7 linked regions of the Homo sapiens genome follow. The protein of the gene in region 5 purifies or fractionates together with the protein of the main gene of each other region. This does not show direct contact. Each region holds a gene or a part of one and is shown on either strand. Other genes may lie near its edges.

Region 1 (3,875 bases), on a different chromosome or scaffold from region 5:
CGCAGTCTCGCTCTGTTGCCCAGGCTGGAGTGCAGTGGCACAATCTCGGCTCACTGCAACCTCTGTCTCCCGGGTTCGAGCAATTCTCTGCCTCAGCCTCCCAAGTAGCTGGGATTACAGGCGCCCACCACCATGCCCGGCTAATTTTTTTTGTATTTTTAGTAGAAACAAGGTTTCACCATCTTGGCCAGGCTGGTCTTGAACTCCTGACCTCGTGATCCACCTGCATTGGCCTCCCAAAGTGCTGGGATTACAGACATGAGCCACTGTGCCCGGCCATATGTTTTTCTTAAGAGAGAAAGGAAAGAGCTGGAAGGCACGGGGTGGGAGGGCCTGAAGAAGAGCATAGGTTGGGTGGGGTGGGGCATGGACTGATTTGGCCTCTTTGTCTTGATGCCAGGCCAGACCTGAGGGAGTGGGTATGCTCTTGGGGAGTACACAGGCAGTACCATGCTGTCATTATCTTTGCTTTTGTCTTGGGGGTTTAGCCAAAGATTTCATCCGGCACTTGATGGAGAAGGACCCAGAGAAAAGATTCACCTGTGAGCAGGCCTTGCAGCACCCATGGTGAGAATTCACACAACCTGTGAGCTGGGGCGGGATTTGGGGCCCTCAGGTCTGCTTCTGCCCTCATAGGCAACCCACCACATAACCCCATCCTAGGATTGCAGGAGATACAGCTCTAGATAAGAATATCCACCAGTCGGTGAGTGAGCAGATCAAGAAGAACTTTGCCAAGAGCAAGTGGAAGGTGAGTCCATATCCCTAGTTCTGGTCCCAGCCTCCCCAGGACTCCTCCCCATCCCTACCCAGGCTCAGCTTGCACAGCACCTGGCATCACACTGGGCACACAGTAACTGCTTAGGGATCCTTACTGAAGGACTTCATTCATTCACTCTTTCATTCAACAAACACTCCCAACACCTTCTCTATTCCAGAGAGGGTCCCTCACCTCCAAGTCTAGAGGAAGAAGTCTGTAATTCTTCAGGAGGCATCTGATCCAGCCTATGGGGTCCGAGAAAGGTCATAAAAGTGGTGATGACCTGACAGAGCTGTCAGTTAAGTAGGAATTAGTGAGGCATAGCGGAATAATGTCTATAGCCATTCCGGGAAGTGCAAGTGCTAAGCCTGGCCAGACTGGAGGGGCTGAGGGGACTGAGAGGCAGGAGCCCAATTTAGAGAAGCAGGTAAGGGGCCAGGCCTCTTAGGGCCTCATATGCCACAGAGGAGCACCAACTTGATCCTGAGGGCACTGAGGAGCCCCAGAAGAATCTTAGGCAAGTATTTGCTGCATAGAAAGGGCTCTCAGGGCCAGGCATGGTGGCTCACGCCTGTAATCCCAGCACTTTGGGAGGCCGAGGTGGTTGGATCACCTGAGGTCAGGAGTTCAAGACCATCCTGGCCAACATGGCAAAACCCTGTCTCTACTAAAAATAAAAGAATTAGCCACACATGGTGGTGCGTGCCTGTAATCCCAGCTACTTGGGAAGCTGAGGCAGGAGAATTACTTGAACCTCGGAGATGGGGGTTGCAGTGAGCTGAGATCGCGCCACTGCACTCCAGCCTGGGCAACAAAGTGAGACTCCACCTCAAAAAAAAAAGAAAGAGCTCTCAGGATGCAGAGAATGGCATGGAGTAAAGACTGGGTGACGCATTAGGAGGCTGTGGCAGAGATACAGGCAGGAGATGGTAAGGGTTTGGAACCACAGTAGCAGCAACAGGGGGCAGAGAACAGTGGTTGATCCAGGAGTCATTTAGGAGGTGAAACTGACAAGACATGACGATGCAATGGATGTTGGGGGAAAGAGATGTCAAGGGCTGGCCCAAGACTGTGGCTGGGAACAGAATGGATGGTGGTGGTACCATGACTGAGATGGTTATCACAGGGACAGAAACATGTTTTGGGGGGATGGTTTTAGTTTTAGACATGGTGAATTTGAGGGGTGTGTGGGACACCTAGGTGGAGATATTGAATAGAGACACACCTGAGCAAGTTACTTCAGCTTTCTGTGCCTCAGTTTCCTCCTTTGAAAATGATAATAGTACCTACCTCAAAGACTTTCATGAAGATTAAATGAATTACTACGTAAAGTGCTTAGAACAGTGCCTGACATACAGTGCTATAGTGTTTGCTATTACATATTAATATGAATTATAGTTATGTTTCTATTTATATATATAGATACACATACATCTAACATATGTGCGTGTGTGTGTGTAAATATATAATAAAGCCTTGTAGAGGTTTTTGGGGGGCTTTAGGGGAATTAATAAAATAACTCCTGAATGAAAATAACAGAACAATTGCAAGAATCCCACTGCGCCCCTGCCCCATGACTTGACTCTCTCAAAAGTCCTTTCTCCCCTCTCCCTTCAATGCCTTCAATGCCAGCAAGCCTTCAATGCCACGGCTGTGGTGCGGCACATGAGGAAACTGCAGCTGGGCACCAGCCAGGAGGGGCAGGGGCAGACGGCGAGCCATGGGGAGCTGCTGACACCAGTGGCTGGGGGTGAGGAGCGGGCTCTGCAGAAGGGCATGGGTGGTCCACAAAGGTGCACCCGGGCTGGAGTGGAGGGCCTGCCCCTGCGGCCACCTCTGTTCTGTCTTCCCATGCAGGGCCGGCAGCTGGCTGTTGCTGTCGAGACTGCTGCGTGGAGCCGGGCACAGAACTGTCCCCCACACTGCCCCACCAGCTCTAGGGCCCTGGACCTCGGGTCATGATCCTCTGCGTGGGAGGGCTTGGGGGCAGCCTGCTCCCCTTCCCTCCCTGAACCGGGAGTTTCTCTGCCCTGTCCCCTCCTCACCTGCTTCCCTACCACTCCTCACTGCATTTTCCATACAAATGTTTCTATTTTATTGTTCCTTCTTGTAATAAAGGGAAGATAAAACCATCCTTAGCGCTGTCTCCCTCAATATCCCCCACCCCATCTTGTTGTGCAAACTGACTGCTTGATTTGGGGGTGCCTGGCCTTTGAGGTAGTCACAGGGAGGCCCCTCCCCAACATGAGACTGGGTGGGGATGGGGAGAGAGAAGTGGGGAATGGAGGGGAAGGTGCTTGGGGAATTTCTTTGTCCAGGGTGCCCCATCTAGCCTTCCGGCCCTTTGGAACCCTTTCTGCGCTTTGCTGGTGGCTCCTGAGCATGGCGGGATTGGCGCAGGTCGGCACTGAACAGCACCTGTAGGAGGGTGGAGTCTGTGTGGGGAGGAGGGTACACTGGGGTCAGGGCTGGTGAGACTAGTGACAGTGTTGGGAGGTGGAAGAGTCCTTGGGGAACAGGGCCGAAGGCAATGAGAATCCACTGGGGTTGGGACAGGGGTGGCTGGAGAGTCCTTTAGGGCCACCTGGGGCGGTGGTGGAAGAGTCCACTGGGTCTGGGCTGGAGGAGAGGAAACCTAGGGAGGACACCTAGGTACACTCACCGCTTGGGCCCAGCCAGCATAAGGTCCCCACAGGCTCCGGAAAAAGTTTCCTAAATCAGAAGTGATGAGACTAAGTTATCTGACCCCTTCTGTGACCCATCAACAGAAGTAGGGTCTGAGGGAGAGGTGACTAAGAGAGAGAGAAGTTTCTACCATCCCAGCCCACTGCCAGCCCCTGCAGCCCACTTTCCTCACCCAGTTCCTTGTTGGTCTGGGGGCTCGGTCCCTTCGCCTGGGACGTGGTAGGGTGCCAGCTGTAGTCACGTTGGGCAATGTGCCACATATGGACATCCACGGGCACAGCCTGGGGCTTGTCTAGGGCCATCAGGCAGATGCAGTCAGCCACCTTTGACAGACACAGAATGAGCCCTTGTGGAAGAAGGGCAGCATGTGGCCAGCATCTTGCTTATAGCCCCAAAGCCGGCTGCTTTCTCCTTCACTCTGGGGTTACTG
Region 2 (4,274 bases), on a different chromosome or scaffold from region 5:
AGGATAAGTTGTTTGTCTGGGTTCAGATCCTTGCCTTGATGACTCTCTTAGAGTACCTACTATTTTGGATAATAGTTGATTGTGTGCACAGGTAGGCTCTTACGGGCAGTGTAATTGACAAATATGTTGGGTGCAAGAGACAAAAAAGCTAGTTTAAGCTGAGCTATACAAAACGGGATTTATTTACTCCTTTAACTAAAATACCCCTTACAAGAATAGCTGTGATTTAGGAATTAGACACTGTTTCAGGGATCTTGTCCTGCTCTTTGTGGGTTGACTGACATGCTCTGCGTGGGTCTCCACAGTTTTGGGCTCATGAATCAACACATTTAGACCATCTCATGAAAAGAGGCAACAATAAACTTAGACCATCTCAGGAAAACACGTCTCATCCCCCACTTAGACCATCATGTGATGGGGAGGTCAACCGCTACTTAGGTCATCATGGGAAAGGGGGGTTACCTCTCACGTAGACCCTCATGAGAGAGGGGTCATCCCCCACTTAGACCCTCATAGGAGCAAGGGGCCATCCCCTACTTAGACCATCATGGGAGAGAGGGGTCATCCTCACTTAGACCCTCATGGGAGAGAGGAAGCATCCCCCACTGAGACCCTCCTAGGAGAGAGAGGTCATCCCCCTCTGAGACCCTCATGAGAGAGAGGGGGCATCCCCGTCTGAGACCCTCATGAGAGAGAGAGGGCATCCCCCTCTGAGACCATTGTGCGAGACAGGGGTCATCCCCCACTTAGACCCTCATGGGAGAGAGGGGATATCCCCCTCTGAGACCCTCATGGGAGAGAGATCATCCTTGATTTAGACCCTCATAAGAGAGAGGGGCATCCGACACTGAGACCCTTGTGAGAGACAGGGATCATCCCCCTCTGAGACCCTCATAGGAGCAAGGGGTCATCCCCTACTTAGACCATCATGGGAGAGAGGGGTCATCCTCACTTAGACGCTCATGGGAGAGAGGGTCATTCCCCACTGAGACCCTCATGGGAGAGAGGGGGTCATCCCCCTCTGAGACCCACATGGGGGAGAGGGGCATCTCCCTCTGAGACCCTCATGAGAGAGAGGGGTCATCCCTCACTGAGACTGAGACCCTTATGGGAGGGAGGAGTCATTCCCCACTGAGACCCTCATGGGAGAGAGGGGTCATTTTCCTCTGAGACCCTCATGGGAGAGGGGTCATCCCTTACTTAGACCCTCAGGAGAGAGAGGGTCACTCCCCACTGAGACACTCATGAGAGACTGAGACTGAGACCCCCATAGGAGAGAGGGTCATCCGACTCTGAGACCCTCAAAGGAGAGAGGCATCATTCCTCACTCAGATCATTTTGAGATAGGTGATCATCACCATATTTAGACCATATCAAGAAAGCTGGACTTCTCCAGTCACTCCTGCCTGATCCTTGGTTTCCCTTGTTCTCTTTGTCCTGATGGTTCATGAGTGTATCCTTGAACCAGTCCTCTAGTCAAAGAATGAAGTAGAATAACTGGTTTAGGCCTAGGCTACAAGTTCCACTGAAATCCAGAGCTGGGGAAAAATGGCTTCCTGGAAGTAAAATTAAGATGCTTCTTCAAAAGCCAGGGGAATGGATACTCGTCAATCAAAACAATACATGTCAGCAGAGTAGTGAGCTCTTTAGCACAGGGACTGCCGTTTATGCTTCTTTGGTTGCTTCTGCACCTATAGTGGAAGGCAGATGTTCAATAAGTAAATCAATACTTTAACTACTTGTTTGAGTTTTAAATAATATTCATCTTTTTCTATTTATAAGAGTTATATATGTTCACTTTAGAATGTTGCAAATAATGGAACAACATAAAGAAAAAATTAAAATAATCTTCAGTCTCCCTATCCGGAGATAACACTGTTGACATTTTGGAGTCTTTCCCTTTGCAAAAGGTCATACCGCATATGGCATATTGTCATGTGTTTTTTAACTTTAGCATCTTCTTCTACTCTGTCTACTTTGTCATGACACTTCTCTGAAAATCAGTGTTAATGGCTGCAGAATAACTAATAAGGCATATGTATGTATCTTCTCTTTATTTAGTGTTATCTGGTTGGTTGTTTTTGTTAGTGAGGAATGGCGTGGCCAGGGAGTAGAAAGGAATGAATTGGATGAAGGGTTGGCTTGGGGAAAGGCAGAAAGAACTTCAGAAACTGGCAGTCCTGGGGGCTTGCAAGCTAGGCTGTGGTGGGATGAAATAGAATTGCAGAACAGGAGAGCTGGAAGCAACCAAGCCCTACTTTTAGTATTTTATATCTATCAGGGGCCTTATACAGAATGAATGTGGAAAATGGAGGAGCGGGGAAAGAAACTAGAGGTACGAAGGCCAAGTAGGGGAAGAGGGAACATCTATCCAACCAGCACCCTTCTCTCTATCTACCCATCTGCTTTTTCTTCCAGCCACAGGTGATTACTTCACAGCCAAACTTCTTAAAAAGTGTAGAAATTGTATCTGTGTTCTCACCTTCTACTCTGTCTTCATCTTTTTGTCATCTGCCTTTCACCTCCATCATCCCACCAACTCACAGTTACTGAAGAACAGTAACATACAGCCATTCGGCTGGCAGACCATTCTCATTCCCATCTCAGAGGTCCTCCTGGTGACACTGGACACAACTGGGCACCTGCTTTACCTTGACTTCTATGATCACACCCTACCAGCTCCATCTTGGTTCTTGAGCCATTCTGTCTCCTTTGCTAGTGCCAGATTCTGTCCCCAGCTGTAAATATTTGAGTTTCTCAAGGGTTAGCTTTGAGCCCTCATCTCTTACTCCCAGCTCTTCTGGAGTTGAACACACACATACCCACAGCTTCAGCTCCATTTCTGAGAATGTGATGCCCGTGTTTATATCACTAGTCGACACCAGTGCTCTGAAACGCACACCCCGCAACTTAGCTACCTGCTGAACATCTCCACCTGAATGGCTTGCAGGCACTCAGCTCAACAAGGCTCAAAGTGACTGTGTGTTCTTCCCCACCTCTACCTCACTGCCCAACCTCACTCACCTCTGGTGTTTCTAAATGATCAGTTGATGTCATCACCTGTCCAGTTGCATTGACCTGAAATCTAGAGTCATCCTTGATACATTTCTGTAATTTGCCATCTTACCTAGTCCGTCACCCAAGCTCTGCTCATTTTTACCTCCTAAATATATGTCAAGCCTGTTCACTTCTTTCTACCTCTGTTGCCAGCTCTCCAGAATAAGCTGCCTTCTCTTTTTATCTGAACTTCTGCAACACCCTCTTAACTGCTCCTTCCTTGTCTGCTCTAGTTCTTTTTCCCAAGTAGTGTCACCTTGGAAACCCCAATCTTTTCATGACATGCCATGTTAAAACACTGAATAGCATCCCATTAGGATAAAAACAAAAGTCCTTGGTGTGTTCTGTCCAGCCGTACATGGCCTGGCTCCTACCTGCCCCACAGCCTTGTGCTATGCCACCCTCATGAGACAGAGGGTCATCCCCCTCTGAGACCCTCATGAGAGAGAGGGGTCCTTGCTCTCTGAATTTCAGCCACACTGATCTTCTTTCAGTTACTCAGCTACACTGTGCTCCCTCTTACTTCATTAATTCAGCAAATATTTAGTGAGTACCTACTATGTGCCAGGTACTGTTCCAAGTGTTAGGGATAACATGGTGAGCAAAACATGCAAAAAGATCCAAGAGTTTACAGATTCTTGGAGAGATGACAGCCAGTAATCAAGATAAATAAATAAAATACACATGACAGCAAAGAGAGTGATAAGAGCTAAGAAAGGGAAAACATAAAATAGTGAAGAAGATAGGAGGTACTTGGAATAAAGAGGGAGTTGCCATTTAAATAGGGTATTCACGGAAAACCTTACTAAAAGGGAGGCTCCTAGTTGGGAAAACATCTGATGGCTTTGGGAAAGAGCAAGGAGCCAGGGGGCTGGAGCGACGGGAGAGAAGTAGGAAGTGAGGACCAGATCATGAAAGTCCTTGTTGGGCTCTCTAAGGATGAGATGGGGAGTCATTTGGGGTGGAGGAAATGCTCTCATCTGGGTCTTGACAGGGTCTCTCAGGATACTGTGTTAAGCAGAGACTGCAGCTTCAGGGGCAAGCCCAAAAGCTAAAAGCCTAGAACAGAGGCTGGTACAGTCATCCAAGTGAGAGAAGGTGACAGCTTGGACCAAAGTGGCAGGACAGAGTCAGGGAAGATGTTGAGATTCTCCAAGCATTTCAAACTTATTATTCCCTCCACTCGGAGTGACCTCTCCTTATCTACTTTAAATAAA
Region 3 (3,190 bases), about 160 Mb from region 5:
TTTAGTTCTAATAAAAATCAGGCTTCCCAGGAACTTGATTGCTTGCTAGTAATTAAGGGGTTTGCCTTTTAGGCTGTCAAAACAAACATTAGTAACCAGAACCTGGGAGACAGCTTCTCAGCAAGGAAAAGTCACAGGTTTGGGGACGGTTTAGGGGAGGGGAAAAGGTTGATATAATAATGCAGGGTTGCTCCTCGGGGTGTCGATCTAGAAACAATTTTACAGAACTTCAGTTGTAAACTCAATAACATTACTTGTATAATGGTGCTGGCCATGTTGTTGTTTTAATCAGTTGCCTCTTTTTAAAAGAAATTTTTATGGAAAACACATTCAACTATCATTAAAAAAATGAAGTTAAGCTGTTGGGACCATTTCTTTAAGATTTAACAAAAGTTCAGCCTTTTAGGTAGTTGAAGGGAAGTACACCCCGTATTCAGCACATGTTGAGTTTTCTACACCAGGAATTTTCAATATGTATATTGATGAAAACAAGCTCAATTCAAACTGGACAGTTTTAAGATAATGTTAAAATCAGCACTTTTAGAGACAACGAAGGCCAAGAATCAGTACAGTAGTATTCCAAAATGATTTTCTCTAGAAATTTGAAAGTAGATCGAACAGAATGTTGTCAACCGCCTACCAGTACAATCTTTTGTGGAAGATACTTTGAAATCACTTTCTACTTTGTTAGTAAAGTTCTGTCTTTCCAGAGCTGCAAGTTTTAAAGTGTTACTTATACAGACCAACCAAGAATAGTGCTGAATTAAGTGGCATTTAGTATCTAGAAGCCATTTTGATCCAAGAAGCTACTTAAGTGTCAAAGTCAGCATGCAGCACATGTAGCTTTTCTGTAAACAAGGGTGTGATATGAAAGCTGCTTTTTTAAGAAGAGTAAAAGCACATTCCATATACGTAAGTGAATTTTAAAAATAAATTGAGGCAAACAGTTAAGTTTTATTTTTAGAGCAACAAGTTAACTGTAAATATTTTAATGTTAGTTTGCTCATCTATGATCTGAGATCATGCCGAAGTGAGAAAAATCTCCCCAAAATACAATTTAATGCATTGGGAAAAAAAAACTTTAACAGTAATTCCAGCCACAATCTTTAGATCACCCTTGTAATGTGTTACGGGTCCATTTTTCCTGGAATCGTTTAATCTAAAGCAGTTTCCCCTGTTTTGGAGATTTTGTAGTTAATTTTAATTTTGGCTATTGTTTGGAAAAGATGAGCTGTCTGTGTAGATATGAAGTATAGTTTTTTCCATAAAACAGATGTTTATTTTGTATTAAAAAATACCACTGTACTTGTTTTACACCATTTGTATACATGTGGTGATATTAATGCTAAACTGTAAAATTCAGGAATTAAAATGTGACCCTGTAATTCCATAATTGATGTTTGTGTTTGGTTTGTTGTAAATATAAATTAACTCCATTTTGAGATATGTCAATTTTACAGTATCTTTTAAAAGCCAATAAAATTATCCATAAATATTTATTATAAACTGCTAGATCATACCCCAATTTTAATGAAATAATTCTAAACAAATGCGGGTCAATGGCACTTTATCAGTGACTACTTATAGAAGGTAAGCCTTGGGGAAATCATAGCATCACAGTATGGAGCTTTTCTCACCTTTTCAATTAAAGGTGTACATATAGTAAGAAAGAAAGACCTTCCACCTCATAAGGCAGGTGACTCAGGATATTTTAAACTAAGATCAGTAAAGTTCCCATCCACTTTCTTTGAATCATCAAATTTTATCGAGACCCATCTCTCAGCTTTTAGTAAATTTCTTCTTAAAATAAGCCCACATGTAAAACACTTTCCTAGTTACTTTTTGTTTGTTTGTTTGAGTCTCGCTCTGTTGCCCAGGCTGGAGTGTAGTTGCACGATTTCGGCTTATTGCAACATCCGCCACCTGGGTTCAAGCAATTCTCTGCCTCAGCCTGAGTAGCTGGGATTACAGGTGCCCGTCACCATGCCAGGCTAATTTTTGTATTTTCAGTAGAGACGGGGTTTCACCATCTTGGCCAGGCTGGTCTTAAACTCCTGACCTCACAATCCACCCGCCTCAGCCTCCCTATCTCTGTATCTTATGAAGACTTCCTTTTTCTTTCTGAAGAGCTGCCATAAGTCTTAAACATTTAAATCATCAGAACCTTTTCTTGTAGCAGAAATGTGAATGTTTTCTTGAAGTACAGGTTACGGTTTTCATGGTACAAGTGCTTACCTACGACGATAAGAGAACAAGGCTTAAAATATCCCTCAAAAGAACAATTGTGAGAATTCCATGTTAGCGGCTGTCTTTAAACGACTACCCTCAGGCAGATCTGGGTTTTTATATCTTTATCTTCATTCAGTGAAGCAAGCCAAAAGCCCACATTTGTATGCCTTAGGTCTTCTTAAAATGGTATCTGTAAACATGTGTCCAATATAAAAACTATTTTTAATAAAAAGTTACATGAAACAGATTTCTGTGTTTTAATCACTAGCATTTCCTCTTAGCCATCTAGTGATGAAAATATAACAAATGTAAATACTGGTTTTCCTGCAGGGGAAAGTTTGGAATTGTGTAACTGAAATGAGTAAATCCTGTTACACTAATTTTGGTATCCTTTTTTAAAAGTTTATAATGGTAGACTTAAGGAGATAAAATGTGATTATAAGTTAAATCTCAGGAGTATCCTGTACTTAGAAAAGGGTGGACGTGGGATATTACAAGACTGGAAGTTTTTTGTTTGTTTGTTTGTTTTTTGGAGATGGAGTCTTGCTCTGTTGTTGCCCAGGCTGGAGTGCAGTGGTGTGATTTCGCTCACTGCAACTTCCACCTCCCAGGTTGAAGCGAGTCTCCAGCCTCAGCCACCCGAGTAGCTGGCATTACAGGCATGCACCACCACGCCCAGCTAATTTTTGTATTTTAGTAGAGATGGGGTTTCACCATGTTGGTCGGGCTGGTCTTGAACTCCTGACCTCAAGTGATCTGCACCCCCTCAGCCTCCCAAAATGTTGGGATTACAGGCATGAGCCACCATGCCTGGCCTTTTTTATTTTATTTTTTTTATATGGAGTCTTGCTCTGTCACCCAGGCTGGAATGCAGTGGCGTGAGCTCGGGTTCAATGCAACCTCCGCCTCCCGGGTTCAAGCGATTCTCCTGCTGCAGCCTTCCAAGTAGCTGGGATTACAG
Region 4 (4,274 bases), on a different chromosome or scaffold from region 5:
AGCCTCCTGAGTAGCTGAGACTGCGGGGATATGTCACTACACTTGGCCAATTTTTATATTTTTTGTTGAGACAGGATCTTGCCATGTTGCTCAAGCTGGTCTCAAACTCCTAGACTCAAGCATTCCACCTGCCTTGGCCTCCCAAAGTGCTGGGATTACAGGAATGAGCCACTGCACCTGGCCAAGTTATTTTTGTAATGCACAGTAAAATAAAATCACAACCACTAAAACAAAATAGTGTTGGTCTCCATCCCACCACCTAACATCCTCACGCTGGCTCCCCTGTGGGAAATCCTCCAGTAGGATTGCAGTAACCTTTGGGTTAAGGAATGACTGTCATATGAGTCAAAGTCTGCTTTATCCCTTGGCTCTGAGAGCAAAGCTCAGGAATCATTTCAGGTGAAACCTGTCCCCATTTCTTCCTTAGGTCTCCATTTTGTCAGCAATGGAGCTCATCTGGAACCTGTGTGAGATTCTTTTTATTGAAGTGGCCCCAGGTAGGCATGGAATATCTCACCATAATCTCATAGGTGTCCCCTTCCATCTTCTGCTCTTTCCTCATCTTTCCTGTGCATGGTGATGAGTGTTTTATTCCTGAGAATGTTCTTTCCATCATTATAACCACGGGAAGTCGTTAGAAAACACCCAAAGAAACCTGACCGTTTTGTCAGGTGCTGCAAAAAGAATCATGCAGAGTGCCTCCAAGAAACCTAAACCCTGACAAGTACTGAGAAATATTAAACTAGTGTGTGAAAGGGGGTGTCAGTGTTAACATCATGGACTGGCCAAGCTTAAGAAAGTTTTATGAATGTGGGGTAGGATTAGGTGGTGAGAGGCAAAGTCACATTGGGAATTCTGTCATGAATCATTGGGACAGGGCAACTCTGTGTGTTAACTCTGCCAATGGGTATGAACTCTGCCAATGGGAATTTTTCTGTTGATCTTTTTTTTTTTTTGAGACAGAGTTTCACTCTTGTTGCCCAGGCTGGAGTGCAATGGCGTGATCTCAGCTCACCGCAACCTCCACCTCCTGGGTTCAAGCGATTCTCCTGCCTCAACCTCCTGAGTAGCTGGGATTACAGACATGCGCTGCCACGCCTGGCTAATTTTGTATTTTTAGTGGAGATGAGGTTTCTCCATGTTGGTCAGGCTGGTCTCGAACTCCCAACCTCAGGTAATCTGCCTGCCTCGGTCTCCCAAAGTGCAGGGATTCCAGGTGTGAGCCACCGTGCCCAGCCTTCTGTTGATCTTGAATTAAACTGTGGTCAGTATAGTGTCATGGCCTGTATGAGCTCTCTGTGGATCTGCTGCAGCTTTTTTGCATTTCTTTTAAGGATTTATGTTTGCTATTTTCCATAAATGAGTAGTAACCTCTGTGTAGCCCTAGCATTTTATTCATACTCTCACTAAAGAAGTGAGGAACTTGAAATTAGAGTTGGTTGTTCAGAGGCCTCCCTTCTCCAGTGGATTTTTGAGGAGGTTACAGTTGGCTCTTTGTATCTGCAGGTTCTACATCATGGATACGGAGTGCTGGCTGTACTCTGCCATTTTATTTCATTTTATTTTTATTGATTGATTGAGACAAGTTCTCACTCTGTCACTTAGGCTGGAGTGTGGTGGTACAATCACAGCTATTGCAGTCTGGACCTCCCAGGCTCAAGCGATCCTCCTGTCTCAGCCTCCTGAGTAGCTGGGACTACAGGCACGTGCCACCATGCTAGGCTAATTTTTTGTGTGTATATGCTGGGGGAGGGGAGACAGGGTCTTGCTCTGTCACCCATGCTGGAGTACAGTGGCGTGATCACAGCTCAGAAGCCTCGACTTCCTGGGCTCAAGCAATCCTCCTGCCCAGCCTCCCAAGTAGCTGGGACCACAGGCCTGCACCACCACGCCCGGCTAATTTTTGTATTTTTTGTGGAGAGGAAATTTCGCTATGTTGCCCGGGCTGTTCTTGAACTCTTGGGCTCAAGCAGTCTGCCCATCTTGGCCTCGCAAAATGCTGGGATTATAGGCGTGAGCCACCATTCCTGGCTCGGCTAATTTTTTATTTTTTTTTGTAGAGATGGGGTCTCCCTATGTTGCCCAGCCTAGTGTCAAACTCCTGGGCTCAAGCGATCTGCCTGCCTCAGCCTCCCAAAGTGCTGGGATTACAGACATGAACTACCATGCCCGGCCATATGTTTTGTTTTGTTTTGTTTTTTGAGACAGAGTCTCACTCCGTCACCCAGGCTGGAGTGCAGTTGTGCGATCTTGGCTCACTGCAACCTCTGCCTCCTGGGTTCAAGCAATTCTGCCTTAGCCACCTGAGTAGCTGGAATTACAGGCATGCGCCACCACGCCCGGCTAATTTTTGTATTTTTAGTAGAGACAGGGTTTCACCATGTTGTCCAGGCTGGTCTTGAACTCCTGAGCTTAGATGATCCACCTGCCTTAGCCTCCGAAAGTGCTGGGATTCCAGGTGTGCACCACCAGCCCCCTGGCCCTATGTTTTTATCATCATTGCATACCTGGCTGCTTGCTATCTAGTCATTGTTGGTTCCTAAACGGCCATTACTTATGTAGCTATTAAGTATTTGTGAAGAATCTGGAGTGTGGGGTAGTGAGGTCTGCATTCCATGTTCACCCCTTTCTGGGGTCAGTTAAAGATGGAGCTGCCTGGCACAGAAGTAATATTTGGTGAAAGTGCATTTGCTTTTTCCTAGCACAGTCTGTCATTCAGGACCATGTGTGTGACTGCTTAAAAGGGATAAACCTATGTAGTCAGCTTGTCTGCCTTAAAGTTCTCTGTTCCTTGGATAAAGGAACTTGCTGCAGATGAAGCTGAGGCTTTTGTGTGTGATGAGAGTCTCTCCTCCCAGCTGGCCCTCTCCTCCTCCATCTCCTTGACTGGGTCCGGCTCCATGTGTGCGAGGTGGACAGTTTGTCGGCAGATGTTCTGGGCAGTGAGAATCCAAGCAAACATGACAGCTTCTGGAACTTGGTAAGACAGGCCGGGCCCCCACCTCCCACCATGTGTCCTACTGTCCCTGGTGCTGCCGGGTGGGTCTGAGGACACCCACTGAGCCTCCAGCAGTAGGCTGGCTTTTGGAGTCTGTTACTATGGAGACTCTTTTGGATCTTTTCTTCCCTGCTCTATGGGAGAGTCTAAAACCGAGGTACCATGTAAGAAAAATAATGCTTTGAAGACTTTTCCAGGGTAAAAGGAAATTTGATTTCTTTGTGGATCTAAGGAAGAGAAGACACAAAAAGGAATACAAAACCGTTTTTTTTTTTTTTTTTTTGAGACAGGGTCTCGGCTGGGTGCGGTGGCTCATGCCTGTAATTCCAGCCAGCACTTTGGGAGGCCAAGTCAGGAATCTCTTGAGCCCAGGAGTTTGAGATTAGCCTGGGCAACAAAGTGAGACCCTCCATCTCAAAACAAATTAATAAATAAAAATATAAAAGAGAAAAGATAGTCCGACTCTGTTCCCCAGGCTGTTGTGCAGTGGCCTGATCTTGCTCACTGCAACCTCCGCCTCCTGTGCGGTCCTACCACCTCAGCCTCTCAAGTAGCTGGGACCACAAGTGCCAACCACCATGCCTGGGTAATGATATAAAACCAATTGACAGGGGCTGGGGTGCATACAGGGTTGGATGTAAATGAGCTTGCACATTACTTTGGATCATCAGTTTCGAAGTCAGCATGTCGTATATGTGTATATGGATGTATTTTCTATGTGTTAGGTATTTCCATTCACCTCTGCTGACTGACCCAATTGGGAGGTGGCAGGGAGGAGATCGCTAGTTGACTGGGCTAATGGAAAGTCAACTAAACTTATAAAGCCTGAAATTGGGAACAGATTGTGAGGACAAAAAAAAAGAAAAGAAAAGAAAACCTGGAATTCGGCCCGGCACGGTGGCTCACAGGAAGTAGTGGGCCAAATGTTTGAGTCTCTGATTGATTCGCTAAGGTTTGTTGTTGTCGTTTAGAGACAGGGTTTCGCTTTGCGGCCTGGGCGGGAGTGCAGTGATGCGATCATGGCACAATGCACCTTTGATTTCCTGGGCTCAAGCAATCCTCCCACCTCAGCCTCCTGAGTGGCTGGGACTACAGGCGCACACCACTACGCCTGGCTAGTTTTATTTTTTGTAGAGGTGAGGTTTCACTGTATTACCCAGGCTGGTCTTGAACTCCTGGGCTCAAGCAATCCTTCCACCTTGGCCTCCCAAAGTGTTGGAACTGCAAGTGTGAGCCACCATTCCTGGTCATTCACTGAGTATTTATTGAGTCCCTA
Region 5 (4,274 bases):
TGGAGCTGTGTCGCTTCTGGGCCAGGAACTGGGCTGGCCTGCTTTCTAGGGGAGTGAGGGGGTGGGAAGGCCCTTGTCCCAGGCTGAGCGTGGGGCTGGAGGATGGGGAGTAGTAAGGGGGTGTCTCACCAGGCCACAGAAGGGTGTCATCCCCTAGCCCCAGCACAGTGTCCAGTGAGCTCAGCATGGTCTCTGCATTGCCCTCAAAGGTCCGCCCTGGGTGGGGGTTGGAGGGTATGTCACAAGGTGCCAGGATAACACAATATGGCATAAGGCACACCCAGACAGGTGGGAACCAGCTTGTAATGCTCTGGCTGGCCGTCAGCCCTGACTGTGCACTTTCCAGACCCACCCCAGGCATCTATTCCCTCCTCACTGGGAACTGGGCCCAACTGGTCACCCCCTGACCAAGCCCATCCGAGGCCTCCGTTGCACACAGTGACACCTGAAGGGAGGGGCTGTGGAATCTTCGGGCTGCAGGCCCCAGGCTTGGTAGACGCAGGGCTGCTCTTTCCCACGGAACACTTCTTCGCCTAGGCTGCCCTTTGGGATTTCATGCAGCCTGGGACTTGTGATCCTCACCCACCCACTCACCTAGCTGTTCTTAACTTTTCATAACCTAGTCCTGCCAGTCACTGTATCAGAGAACCAGTCTCCACCCAGGGGAAACTAATTCCCTGCAGGGCTTTACTCAGCTACAGACATTCTCCCATTCTGTCCCGCAGCTGGCAGAAGTCTTTTTTATTTTTGAGACAGAGTCTCATTGTTGCCCAGGCTGCAGTGCAGTGGCACAATCATAGCTCACTGCAACCTTGAATTCCTGGGCTCACCACCACACTGGCTAATTTTTGTATTTTTTGTAGAGACGGGGTTTCACCATGTTGCCCAAGCTGGTCTTGAACTCCTGGGCTCAAGCAATCCACTTGCTTTGGCCTCCCAGAGTTCTGGGATTACAGGCCTGAGTCACTGCTCCTGGCCTATATTATTTATATTATTTAAATTTTTTTTTCTGTTTTGTGACAGAGTCTCACTCTGTCTTCCAGGTTGGAGTGCAGTGGCGCGATCTCAGCTCGCTGCAACCTCTACCTCTCGGGTTCAAGCAGTTCTCCTGTCTCAGCCTCCCTAGTAGCTGGGATTACAGGCATGCACCACCATGCCCGGCTAATTTCTGTATTTTTAGTAGAGACGGGGTTTCACCATGTTGACCAGGCTGGTCTTGAACTCCTGACCTCAGGTGATCCTCCCACCTCAGCCTCCCAAAGTGCTGGGATTACAGGCATGAGCCACCACGCCTGGCCTATTTTAAAATTTTTTTGTAGAGACAGTCTTGCTATTTTGCCCAGTCTGGTCTCCAACTCCTAGCCTCAAGTGATCCTCCTGCCTCAGCCTCCCAAGGTGCCCCAAGGGAAGTCTCAAGGATTAAAACCAATCTGAGTAACACAGATGGAAGTAACTGCCACGGCAACATCTGTGCTAAAACTAAGGCTTCAGTGCTCTCCATGGGACTGTGGCTGCCCTGGCTTCTGTCTCTCCCTCCTCTCCCAGCTCCTCTCTCTTTCGGGGAAACTCACCACAGCCAGAGAGGAAGAGCAGGTCCCCTGAGAAGAGGCAGGAGGGACCCTTGTAGGGCTCCCCATCCAGTAGGTAGACCAGATGGCCTTGTGTGTGGCCAGGTGTAGCCAGGGCCCGGATCTGAAGCCGTCCCACGCTGACCACATCTTGATGACACAGGGGACTGGGGAACAAGGGAGCAGGGGACAGAAGGTATTGGATCTGTGCCATGCTGATCCCTGTCCCCATCCCAGGCCCAAGGGGCTGGGTGATTCACAAGAGAGTGGGCTTCCATACAAAAGAAGTCACCCCAGTGCCTCGGGTCTCAGGTCCGAACCCTCCCCCTTTCCTCTTTTGGGGACTATGGCTGGATCAGTTGGGGGATGGGCAGTGCCAGTCTTCAGATAGGCTGGGATTGGGCCAGGAAGGGCACTGGCAAAGATCCACCTGCTGATACCCCTGAAACACTTCACTGAAGGCTGGGGGTGGGGGAAAGGGCCCATGGAAGGGCCATCCCTTGCCTAGGTCAGGGACTTACTGGGTGAGGTAGGGGATGCCGTCCTGAGGGCTCCCGTACACCCGACAGTCCCGGTGCCGCCGGCTGAGGTCACGGTTCCCTCCACTGTGGTCCCTGCAGGACAGCAGAGACAGGCAGGGGGCTTCGAGGGGCAACTGTACCTAAGCCCCCTTCTTTACCACAGCATCTCCAGGCCTTTAAGTGCTGGGGCTGTGGCTTCTGGACTAAGCCAAGTTGTCCACACCTCTAGGCCTTTGTTCAAGCTGTTCCCTTGCCCAGAACATCGCCCCCAACAACTCAAGCTGGCCAATGCCAGCCGAGCTTCCTGAACCCTCAGCTCAGGTCATCATCTTTCAATTCTCCAAGTGGATCTGATCACACCGTGCCTGGGCCTCCCATCCCTGTTCCCTGTGCCAACTGTTACCTAAATATCACATACTTCTTTTTTGAAGACAAGGTCTCACTATGTTGCCCAGGTTGGGCTTGAACTCCCAACCCTCTTGCCTCCGCTGTTATATACTTTGATACAGGGCTACCTCCCCTATTGGTCTTAGAATTTCCTTGATGGAAGAGTCATAACTTTTGTCCATGCCCAGTGTGCAGTAGGTATCTAATACATGCCCATGAAATGAAAGAGAAATGACTGCCCTGCCCTCTGGGGCTTCAGAAGCTTGATCAATGGAGTGGTGGGAGACTGTCCCCTCTCCTCCCTCCCTGCTGGTGTCCAGGTGACTTCACGAGGAAGGCGGGTGCCGGCCCGTACTGACTTCTTGATCTCTGGCCCCGGCCGTCCTCAATGGGCCCAGTCCTGGCAAGCCCAGCTGGGACAAGGGTGGGCCAGGGAAGACGGGAGCCCCTTACCAGTGCTTGTGAGTACACAGAATGGCGACCAAGGTGACCCCTTCCTTTTCAATGGAAGCCTGCGAGAGAGAGGAGGTTTGGAGACTGGGGAGCAGGATGCAAGAGGCACTTGAAGCAGCAAGAGCCAGGAGTGTGGGCGCTGGTGGAGAGGAGAGGAGAGCATGGAGAGATGAAGCAGAGGAAAGGGATGGAGCTGGAGGGGAGAGATCCAGGAATGTGAAGCACGGGGCACATGGAGGCAGAGGGACACTTGTACATAGAGAGAGGCAGACACAGAGAGATAAGGAATGGGAGGGAAAGACAGAGAGACCCAGATACTGACAGACAGAGGTGACAGAAAGAAAGGGGGTCTGAAGGGGGCCAATGGGAGTGAAAGCCAGCCTGGAAACTCACTAGACCCAGAGTCCTGGGCCAACACCCCCAGCCCTCTGGCTCTGCATCCCCCACTCCTGCTCTCCCCTTCTGCCCAGCCATGCCCTGTACCCCCCTTCCCCAGGCTATGTGTGCGCATGTGCACGTGTGAACATGGAGCATATGGGACACATCCCACGGGCAGACGGACAAGGGTCAGCCCTCTCTAGCAAGGCGAAACTGCCAGTCCCCAAGGTGACTCCAGGCACCCCCTGCTCCCTGCCCTCCCCTCACCTGCACAGCCCGAGGGTCTGAAGGGTCCACAGCCACAGCCAGCTGGGCCTGGGTGTCGATGATGAGGTAGCTGTAGTTGTCCGAGAGGACAGGGATGGGAAGCACCTTCACTCCTGGGGACAGAGATGGGCTGTGGGCGGGGTAACAGGCAGGGAGCCCAGGGGCTGGGGTATGTGAAGGGGAGCAGGCGGGGAGGGTGGGGGCACAGAATGGGGGATGCTGGCCGGGGCAGTCAGAGCTCACCATTGAAGAGGCGGGGCTGGGTTTTCGAGTGGCCTTTAGGGTAGCGATTCCGAGCCCTGCGCAGCTGCTGTCGGTAGAAGAGGTACCCGAGCCAGGTGCGGGTGTACAGGCTGTACCTAGAGGGCGAGTGGGTGGCCTATGATTAGCCTTTTCTCCCTAGCTCCCCTAGACTCCTTCGTGATGCCTGCAGGCCCCACATCTCCATTCCTTTGGTGACCCTGTGAGCCAATGCAATTCCACTCTCACTTATTATGTGCCTACTGTTTGCCCTGCTTAGCACTCAGGACAAGATGGAGAATGAGACGGACACACCTAGAACTCAAAATCTATCAGGGAGACATGAACTGAGGAACTCACAGAAGAAAATTGGAGAGGCCAGGCGCAGTGGCTCACACCTGTAATCCCAGAACTTTGGGAGGCCGAGGTGGGCGGATCACCTGAGGTCAGGAGTTCGAGA
Region 6 (4,932 bases), on a different chromosome or scaffold from region 5:
GCCCTCTTCTTTTTTCACTCATCCATCCCTAACGCATTTATTATCACCCATGTGTTAATGGATGCTACATTTACATCTCTAGTCAAGACCTTCTCTTCTGAACCTCAGACTCATAGATACAGCTTCCTATTAGTCATTTCAACCCGGCAATGGATCTCCAGCCATTGCAAATGTAGTCCAACTCAAATATTTCCTGAACAATCCTTGTGCAAAGAACTGAAGCAACATAAATCTTGTTCTTATCCTCACAGAGGCCCTATAGAGAGAAATTTAATTTTGGAAAAGTTCAAAATGTTCTACACTGAACTCATCATACTCCTCTGACACAGGCTATAAGATTAAGACACCACTCAACCTCAAACCACAAAGTCACCTTATAATGGTACCTTAACTCCACATACACTGTTTCAAACCTAGCCAATGCTCTCTCAATATCTTTAAATCTGTTACCTCCTCTCCATTCCCACAGTTACAACCTAATCTGGCCCTTGTAACCACTTGCTGGACTACAGCAACAGCCTTAACGCTGTCACTCTAATTCCAACTGCATCTCCCTCCATCCATTCTCCATGCTGCAATACTGTGGAAAGAGGGAAAGCTTTAGTCATTAAAACATTTTAAATCATCTTCACATATTTTATACAAAAGCGTTGATATTTGGAACTGAATCTTGAGGGAGTTTACTAGAGAGACAAGGATAAGAAAGGAGATTCTGGCCGGGCACGGTGGCTCATGCCTGTAATCCCAGCCCTTTGGGAGGCCAAGGCAGGCAGATCACCTGAGGTCAGGAGTTGAAGACCAGCATGGCCAACACGGTGAAACCCCATCTCTACTAAAAATATAAAAATTAGCCAAGCACGGTGGCGAACACCTATAATCCCTGCTACTCAGGAGGCTGAGGCAGGAGAATTGCTTGAACCCAGGAGGTGGAGGTTGCAGTGAACCGAGATCGCACCACTGCATTCCAGCCTGCGTGATACAGTGAGACTCTATAAAAAAAAAAAAAACCCCGCACAGATTATATGAAATGGATCAGAGGGTCTACAGATAAGTGGCTTGGTGTGGCCGGAGTTTGGGTATGGGGAATAGAGTAGCAGGCAATGAGCATTTTACAGGGGGCCCATACAAACAAACACAGACTTTGTTCGGCAGGAAACAGACTAGTTGCTTACCCTACTGAATGTCAGGCATTGCACTACAAATTTTAAATATACTTTTTTATTTTTTCTTTTTGAGATGGAGTCATACACTGTCGCCCAGGCTGGAGTGCAATGGCACAATCTGGACTTACTGCAACCTCCGCCTCCCGAGTTCAAGCAATTCTTCTGCGTCAGCCTCCTGAGTAGCTGGGACTACAGGCACATGCCACCACGCCCAGCTAATTTTTTATTTTTATTTTTTTTTCTGAGACAGAGTTTCGCTCTTGTTGCCCAGGCTGGAGCGCAATGGCGTGATCTCGGCTCACCACAACCTCTGCCTCCCAGGTTCAAGCAATTCTCCTGCCTCAGCCTCTCGAGTAGCTGTGATTACAGGCATGCACCACCACGCCCAGCTAATTTTGTACTTTTAGTAGAGACGGGGTTTCTCCATGTTGAGGCTGGTCTCGAACTACTGACCTCAGGTGATCCACCCGTCTCTGCCTCCCAAAGTGCTGGGATTACAGGCGTGAGCCACCGCGCCCGGCCTAATTTTTTAATTTTTAGTAGAGACAGGTTTTCACCATATTGGCCAGGCTGGTCTCAAACTCCTGACCTTGTGATCCACCCGCCTCCGCCTCCCAAAGTGCTGGGATTACAGGCCTGAGCCAGCACACCCAGTCTAAATATACTTTTAATACCCAGTAAACATTTTTAAGAGAGGCTGCGTCCCTGTTTCACAGAAGAGGAAACTAAGAAACAAGTAACTGAGGAAAGATCACTTGAGTTGATCCATTTTTCTATTGCTGCCTACCAAGAGAAGCAAACTGTATCTCAACATATCATCTCCTCCTCAAGTAGGACAGCTGGTCCTGAAATTTACACTAAGTTTACATGAACTACAAACATCTAGACGCTACTGACATTTAGTGGGTAGAGATCAAGGATGCTGCCAAACATACTGCAATGCACAGGACACCTCCCCTCCCCCATAACAAAGAATTATCCCATTCAAAATGTCAATAGTGCTGAGGTTGACAAACCCTCAGTCTAAATGAAGCAAAGTAATTGCAATTTTAAGTTAAATCATTTTTCGTAATTTAGATTCTAAAAGTACTTCAAAAAAGAACAGCATTTCAACAGAGTAATTGTTGCAAATAATCCAATAATTGAAGTTTAAAGAACGCATCATTAAATGATAATCACTTTAGGCTAATTACACACTTTATTCAACTAGAGGCCCACTATATTCCTACTACACACAATATAACAAATCCAAAAGCCCTCAAGCCAGGGCATGCTTAAATTAGATATAAGGAGAAGAGGATCACGTGAGACCTCATTTCCAATTCGAGGGCCTTTAAAATTTTAAACGAGATGAAAGTTTTGAAACTGAGAAATGACAACATTTGACTTTTGTTGCAAAAAGCTAGCTATGTTGACACAGACTGCAGGAGAGAGCTCAGTTGAGAGCCGACTGCAACAGCCGGCAGATGACTGAAGCTCGAACCAGGGTAGTAAAGGGGAAGATGGTGAGAACTGGTAAGATTCTGGACATATTTCGAAGGTGAAGACGGCAGGATTTTCCTCTGGGCTGGTCGTAGGTGTGAATAAACGAAAGATGTCAAGGTTGAACAGTAAACATTAATAGCAAACACCCAACCAAGCACCCTAGCCCCTCCGCCTTTTTTCTTTTCTTTTTTTTTACGAGGACGTTGGATCGGCCAGCAAGTGAGAAAAAAGGGCCCTAAATATTAACAGCAACCACCCACCCAGGCACCCTAGCCCCTCCGCTTTTTTTTTTTTCTGTTTTTTTTTTTTTTTTTACGAGGACGTTGGATCTGCCAGCAAGTGAGAAAAAAGGACCCTCACCTTCACGTCGTGTTTCAGCTCCGGCGCCAGGCTGAGCACGAGGAGGTAGTGGGCATAGGCAGTGCCGAAGTCCTGGACGCCCAGACAGTGCTCTGCGCTCTGCAAGGACCGCGACACCAGCTCGTCCCGGCCGGCTGCCCCAGCGCCACCCCCGGCGTCTCGGCGGGACCTGGGCCGCGAGTTCGACATGGCAGTCACCACTTGTATGGCCAAAGGGAAGATATTTTGTAAACGTAATTAGAAAACTCTCTCGATGCTACACTTCCAGGGACCAGACAACTGCTCAAAAAACAGCACAGCAAAGTTACCCTCCGCCGCGGGTGAACTCGCCAACCCCAGCCCAGGCGGAAGCTCCGCCCCGTCCTGGCCCCGCGGGCGGCGCAGACCGTGACGCATACCCCACTATTGCGCACCTGGCCAGCGGCGCACGCTACGCGAACGTCAGCGCGCCCGACGTGGGCACGTCACTGCTGCCCATTCCCGCAGGAGCGACCACTGTGCGTGAGCATAGGAGAACGTCTGTGGCAGGACCTGTCCGGTCTTGCGCCCTTTTTTTTTCCCGGCTGAAAGCAGAGCTTTCTCTCCCTCTTGCACTCCGGGAGTGTGTGGCTTTCGACTGCAAGACCCTGTTGTACAGACCCAGGCAGCGCGAAGCGCCACCCGCTCATGAGGGACGGTCAAGCATTTGTGATGATGCTTAAGACATTTTGGATCGTGATGCACAAAATTTCAAGACCTGAAAGAACCTGGAGATAACAAAAGCATCTCAGACGTGGTAGAGGAAATGCTTTCACAGGCATTTCAAATCATTCTCACAAAACCTGGCTAGGTGGACCTTTGGATCACACTCGTCTTAATGATGGCAAACGTGGTATCTTGAGAAGTGACTTGCTGGAGGTCACACAACCAGCTAGTGGCATAGGCATGGTTCAAATCCAAGTTCTCTGACCACCTATCTGTTCAGTTATAAGATGAGCTTAGGGGTTATTTCACTGTTCGTGTCTTATCACTGTATAGTGTTTACATTAATACAAAGTTTTTCCACATTCAAGTGTGGCCTCTAAGATACAGATTCGAAACTCAAAGGGAGGGGAGCATAGTTATTACGGCTGAAAAGTTATTTTTGTCCCCATTTTCAAATTCATTAATGGATAATATCTTAAATCGAGCATTTTGCATATCACACTAATACATTTTGAGGGCTCCTCTAATTCTCAAAAACACGTCATGCATTTTTGCCTTCTCTTCTGATCCAATTATCTGAACTACCCTTTTTTCTGAGCACTCGCCTGTGTAAATCCTAATCCGTTTTTCAGGTTCCAGCTCACTACATTGTGAGCTATTCTTAATCACTTTTGTGACCTTTGCACCTAGCGGATTATGATGCAAAGTAAGGACTTTGATTTTTTCTTCTTTCTTTTCTTTCTTTTCTTTTTTTTCTTTTTTTTTTTTTTTTTTTTTTTTTTTTTTTTGAGACAGAGCCTCACTCTGTCGCCAGGCTGGAGTGCAGTGGTGCGATCTCGGCTCACTGCAACCTCTACCTCCCAAGTTCAAGCGATTCTCCTGCCTCAGCCTTCCGAGTAGCTGGGATTACAGGCATGCACCACCACGCCCGGGTAATTTTGTCTTTTTAGTAGAGACAGGGTTTCTCCATGTTGGTCAGGCTGGTCTCAAGCTCCTGACCTCAGGTGATCCGCCCGCCTCAGCCCCCCAAAGTGCTGGGATTACAGGCATGAGCCACTGCACCAGGCCAATTATTTGCATTTTTTCGTGGTTTATCTATAACTTCAAGATTTTCTGTACATAGAATAGGTCATTTGAAAAAATGGAATGACACAAATAACATGGAACATCTGGTCACCTTAAGAAACTGGAATTGGCAACAGCCTTTCATGCTAAAAACTCTCAATAAATTAGGTATTGA
Region 7 (4,274 bases), on a different chromosome or scaffold from region 5:
ATTCTCAATAGAAATATAAAATAGTTACTGCTACATTTGGGTATACAAGCATTGTTCAGTTTATAATTTCTGAGTTTATTATGAGGTCTTTGGGACAGGCTCACACCAAAGCCTGGGATATACTTCAGAATTTTCAGGAGATATGCTTCTATAGTTGTGATACTAGACTATAGTTTTCTTCAAATTGTTTAGCAGGCTGTAATAGAATTGCTGGGTTAGCATCATTAAAAGTTCATCTTACTGCTGCAATGAGTTTGAAAGTCTTGAATAATGTTAGCATGAGAGATCAACTTCCCAGAATATATATTTATAGATTAAATCAGTGTGGTGACCCAGCAGGTGGAAACATTCTGGTAATATTTTGGAATACCAGTCTTCCTTATGGTGAGCTCTGCAATTACCTAGCGGTGTAACAGTATACTACTTGTCCTTTGACTGATGTACTTTTTAAGTGTTTTGTTGATTTCCTTTGGAGCAGTCAGGTCTTTAATTTCTTCATATCTTCCCTCCTTCTTAGAGCTTCCTCCACCCTCCATCACACAACAATAGTTATGAGAAAAGAAAAGAAGGAATTTCTTTTTAAAAAATATTTGTGGTTGCTTGTTGGTAAGGCAGTCATTTCATCTTCGGATCTCCAGTTTAGTGGCCACTGTTTAAGATATGGAGCCATAGAGTTATCTGAACCCAGATAGCTGAAAGTTGCCTATTTGTTCCTCTTTTATATGTATAGGCAGTGGTTTGACTTTCATGAGCATTTTTTATTTGGGTTTTAAAGAAATAATTTGACTTAATTTATTGTTAGAAACAAAATGATGGCAGTGCCAGCAGCACTGTGCTAGGAATAAAATTTTGTTTCTTTATTAGCTACTTTTCTTTTCTGATGCTACATTTCAAAGTCCATCATTTAAAAAATGCCTTGTGAGAGAATCTGTAAGTCTGCCTATTAATTATGACCCCTCAAAATATTCAGAAAAGTAAATGTTTTAAAATGTATTTTTTTTCCCTCCTATGTCAAATGACTCAACCTCAGCCCCTTTTGAAAGGCCAAGGGGCTTATTAGCTACTATTGTATATGCAGATCGAGTGCTGTTCCTGACTGTGTAAGAATATAAGATCCTGTTTTGGATTTCATATCCACTCTAGCATTACTGTTACATCCTGTTATGTTAGAATTGAGAAGGGATAACTGTTATTAAAGATCTTATCTCAAACATTTATAATAAACAGGAGGTGTATAGCAGCAAAATAACACATTTAATTTTTATTTTAAACATAGAAAATTTGTAGATTTATTAGAACTGACTAAGTCATAAAACTCACTAAATAGAAAAAAGACTGGATAATTTGTCAGATGACTAGAAATTAGATGTCTGTTTTGGAAACATTTTGTTAAATTCTGTCATTACTAAGAAATGTGAAGAGACTTGCTTCTAGAGTTTAATAAGCAAGAACTAAAAACATAGTATTACCCAACCATTCATAATAATCTTGTTAAAATATGTTCATATGTGTGTGTTTGTAATTATGGTTAGCATGATTAATGATCTTTATCAAATAACTAATATAGCTTACATTTTTAACATCTTATATTGCAGTATTACTAAGCTGTGAATGAAGGTGGAAATGATTTCAAAATAGGACATATTTTCTGTATGTAAATATTATATACTGATGACTCCTAATGTCTGTTTTGGCTTTCTTTAATTTTTATGATAATAAAGCCAGCTATCTTGTAATGGTTTTCTACTATAATTCTAGAGAAGAATTTAGGTTCATTCCAGTTTAATCCTTTTGGCTTTACCTGGAATAAAAATACACTTTATATTTGTTTTATTTACGTTATATACAGTGTATTTAGTATTTGTTAATTTTGTATTTTATGTTTCATGTAGTTTTGAAGCTCCTTTAAAATAGTTACTAAATATTTGCTAATGTATTAATGGAAAACTGTTAAAATATTTTGGGTTTTTTTTTTTTTTGGTAAGGAACATTTGTGTTAGTAATTGTTCATGTAGTAATTGATACAGTGTGTTAGTATTTTCTACAAATCCTCTTTTTTATTATAGATCTCCACAGGATAAAAGAACACTTCTTGTGAATTGTCAGAATAAGAGTCTTTCACAGTCTTTTGAAAATCTTCTTGATGAGCCAGCATATGGTTTAATACAAGTATGTTCCTTAAATCTATCCTGTATTATTCTGACTGCATTATTTTATATACCCTGTACTTCTCATCTTCTCAGAGAGTATGCAAAATGAGACAGGTACATATATATACATAGATATGTGTGTGTGTGTGTGTAATCTTTTTGGAACTATTCTCTAATTTTACAGAAACAATAATAAGTTTTCATGTTATTTGCAAGACTCAGAGGCTTCCTTGGTTCTTAGTTACTCATAAGGAAATTTCTCAGTTTATTATAATACTAAAATTAGACATCAGTAGATTTGTATCATAACTTTTATTGATTAGGCCAGGGATCACAGAGTAGGCCAGTTTGAATTCATTAATGATCGGTTTAGGCAAAAATCTGGTTTGAATTTAAGTAGATTGTTTTGACGTCATGACAATCTTATTCCCCTAAGAATATTTGAGTACTGTTCTTACATTTGGCTAAAAATGTGCACTTAATAATAGGCAGAAGTAAATTTAATTATCACTCAGATGACTATGTAAAGTAATGAGATGGTTTATTCATTTATTTATTTATTCACTTATTCATTTAACAAATATGTGAGTGCTTGCTGTGTCCCAGCTATTCTTTTCCTGGTTTTGAAGATGTAAAGATTAATAAGATATAGAGGGAACTTTAGGAAAGAGGATGAGAGAGAGAACTAAACACTGTTTAAAATGGACAATAAAAGGATAATTTTACTTATTGTGAAAAGAATTATTTAATAAATAACTGTTTTTGCTAAATATGAATGAGCAAATAGTTTGGGCTTCAGAAGTTACCCTGGCACTTAACAGTAGAAAAACCTTTTGCTGTTTTCCAGGGTAGCACTGTCCCAGAATAAATTATTCTTGTTGGCATGATTTACTATTCATATAATTAGATTAAAATGTCAACTAATATTTAAATATGAGTTTTTAAATTTAGCCATCAAATATTTTGTGTCAGAATAGCATGGTGGTACACACTTCAAGAAATATTTTTTTTGTATGAAGGCAGGACTGCTAGACAGAAGAAAGCTGTTGTGGGCCATTCACCACTGGAAAGTAAGCACTGCGTATGTTTTCTGATGTATGCAGATTGAGTGAAGCCTGCAAATCATTTGTTTATCTGCAATTCAATCAGTAGCATTAACTTGTCATTTATTATGCTATTTTAACCAAATGAAATGATTGGCTTAGAAAATTTAAATTTTTCTTTGAAGAAAGAAAATACAAATTTAAGATAATCTTAGAACACTCTGTTTTAGTCCTGATTTCTTTTCTTTTAAAAAGCTTTGCTTTTTTGCTCATGATGGAGTATTCGTTTTTCTTTATTTGAGTTAATAATGCTAATATTTTTCTTCCTACTGCATAGAAAATTAAAAAGGACCCTTATACGGCAACTATGATAGGATTTTCCAAAGTCACAAACTACATTTTTGACAGTTTGAGAGGCAGCGATCCCTCTACACATCAACGACCACCTTCAGAAATGGCAGATTTTCTTAGTGATGCTATTCCAGGTCTAAAGATAAATCAACAAGAAGAACCAGGATTTGAAGTCATCACAAGAGTGAGTAAAGATTAGTATTAATATAGCTCTTATATTTTAACAGGAGAACATGTACTATAGAAATAGAAACTTAATTTTGGTGATATCTGCTTCTTTCCATAATCTGTTCTTAACAACTTTTTGCTAGTATATCTGACAATGAGTGCTTGTCCTGCCACTAAGTTCTTCATTTGTTCTCTATCTTATACTCTTTCTTGATTAATGTTGGATCTCTCTTCTTTGATTACCTTTTGATAATGAAGTTTGTTTCATTGGGTGCATAGCAGAGTGAGGAGCGAACCTTTCCTATTACCTCTTAGTTCTGTTCCTTACTTGCATGTTTTCTCATAGGCATCAGAGACAGCTAGTCAGGATACTACTTTTAGGGCTTTTATTCTCATGTAATACTTCCTTTTTTAAGTAAGATGGGTTTTGGCCTGAATTATGGCAGATCTTTATATGTGCTCAGTAAGATTTAAATTTGCTACAATTCTAGGCTTGTACATAGTTAGAAAACTATAAATATCTAAATTTTAGTGCTTAATTAAAGGGTTTATCTTGCAAATA

What was found.
Region 1: the proteins of PNKD (region 5) and CAMK1 purify together in Homo sapiens (affinity purification with mass spectrometry; 2 studies listed by BioGRID and IntAct, with this or other methods). This does not show direct contact.
Region 2: the proteins of PNKD (region 5) and ARFGEF3 purify together in Homo sapiens (affinity purification with mass spectrometry; 2 studies listed by BioGRID and IntAct, with this or other methods). This does not show direct contact.
Region 3: the proteins of PNKD (region 5) and PPP4R3B purify together in Homo sapiens (affinity purification with mass spectrometry; 2 studies listed by BioGRID and IntAct, with this or other methods). This does not show direct contact.
Region 4: the proteins of PNKD (region 5) and NUP85 purify together in Homo sapiens (affinity purification with mass spectrometry; 2 studies listed by BioGRID and IntAct, with this or other methods). This does not show direct contact.
Region 6: the proteins of PNKD (region 5) and PRMT9 purify together in Homo sapiens (affinity purification with mass spectrometry; 3 studies listed by BioGRID and IntAct, with this or other methods). This does not show direct contact.
Region 7: the proteins of PNKD (region 5) and TBC1D15 purify together in Homo sapiens (affinity purification with mass spectrometry; 2 studies listed by BioGRID and IntAct, with this or other methods). This does not show direct contact.

Annotation. Positions count from the first base shown.
Region 1 is NC_000003.12:9,756,364-9,760,238, reverse strand, and holds the end of CAMK1 (calcium/calmodulin-dependent protein kinase type 1), read left to right. Parts: intron 1-488; coding exon 489-567; intron 568-663; coding exon 664-751; intron 752-952; coding exon of another isoform or gene 953-1,052; intron 1,053-2,392; coding exon 2,393-2,510; coding exon of another isoform or gene 2,511-2,617; coding exon 2,618-2,700; coding exon of another isoform or gene 2,701-2,722; 3' UTR 2,723-2,892; downstream 2,893-3,875. Other genes in the region: OGG1 (N-glycosylase/DNA lyase), read right to left, coding at 3,423-3,472, 3,618-3,768. UniProt on the Homo sapiens protein: Calcium/calmodulin-dependent protein kinase that operates in the calcium-triggered CaMKK-CaMK1 signaling cascade and, upon calcium influx, regulates transcription activators activity, cell cycle, hormone production, cell differentiation, actin filament organization and neurite outgrowth.
Region 2 is NC_000006.12:138,164,478-138,168,751, forward strand, and holds part of ARFGEF3 (brefeldin A-inhibited guanine nucleotide-exchange protein 3), read left to right. Parts: intron 1-4,274. UniProt on the Homo sapiens protein: Participates in the regulation of systemic glucose homeostasis, where it negatively regulates insulin granule biogenesis in pancreatic islet beta cells. Also regulates glucagon granule production in pancreatic alpha cells.
Region 3 is NC_000002.12:55,546,578-55,549,767, reverse strand, and holds the end of PPP4R3B (serine/threonine-protein phosphatase 4 regulatory subunit 3B), read left to right. Parts: 3' UTR 1-2,476; downstream 2,477-3,190. UniProt on the Homo sapiens protein: Regulatory subunit of serine/threonine-protein phosphatase 4 (PP4). May regulate the activity of PPP4C at centrosomal microtubule organizing centers.
Region 4 is NC_000017.11:75,215,327-75,219,600, forward strand, and holds part of NUP85 (nuclear pore complex protein Nup85), read left to right. Parts: intron 1-427; coding exon 428-497; intron 498-2,858; coding exon 2,859-2,980; intron 2,981-4,274. UniProt on the Homo sapiens protein: Essential component of the nuclear pore complex (NPC) that seems to be required for NPC assembly and maintenance. As part of the NPC Nup107-160 subcomplex plays a role in RNA export and in tethering NUP96/Nup98 and NUP153 to the nucleus.
Region 5 is NC_000002.12:218,339,442-218,343,715, reverse strand, and holds part of PNKD (probable thioesterase PNKD isoform 1 precursor), read right to left. Parts: intron 3,934-4,274; coding exon 3,818-3,933; intron 3,688-3,817; coding exon 3,575-3,687; intron 2,989-3,574; coding exon 2,930-2,988; intron 2,183-2,929; coding exon 2,090-2,182; intron 1,806-2,089; exon of another isoform or gene 1,736-1,805; coding exon 1,572-1,735; intron 217-1,571; coding exon 130-216; intron 1-129. UniProt on the Homo sapiens protein: Probable thioesterase that may play a role in cellular detoxification processes; it likely acts on a yet-unknown alpha-hydroxythioester substrate.
Region 6 is NC_000004.12:147,680,791-147,685,722, forward strand, and holds the start of PRMT9 (protein arginine N-methyltransferase 9), read right to left. Parts: upstream 3,374-4,932; 5' UTR 3,198-3,373; coding exon 3,009-3,197; intron 1-3,008. UniProt on the Homo sapiens protein: Arginine methyltransferase that can both catalyze the formation of omega-N monomethylarginine (MMA) and symmetrical dimethylarginine (sDMA). Specifically mediates the symmetrical dimethylation of SF3B2.
Region 7 is NC_000012.12:71,891,156-71,895,429, forward strand, and holds part of TBC1D15 (TBC1 domain family member 15), read left to right. Parts: intron 1-1,595; exon of another isoform or gene 1,596-1,650; intron 1,651-2,066; coding exon 2,067-2,169; exon of another isoform or gene 2,170-2,264; intron 2,265-2,642; exon of another isoform or gene 2,643-2,644; intron 2,645-3,169; coding exon of another isoform or gene 3,170-3,220; intron 3,221-3,530; coding exon 3,531-3,728; intron 3,729-4,274. UniProt on the Homo sapiens protein: Acts as a GTPase activating protein for RAB7A. Does not act on RAB4, RAB5 or RAB6.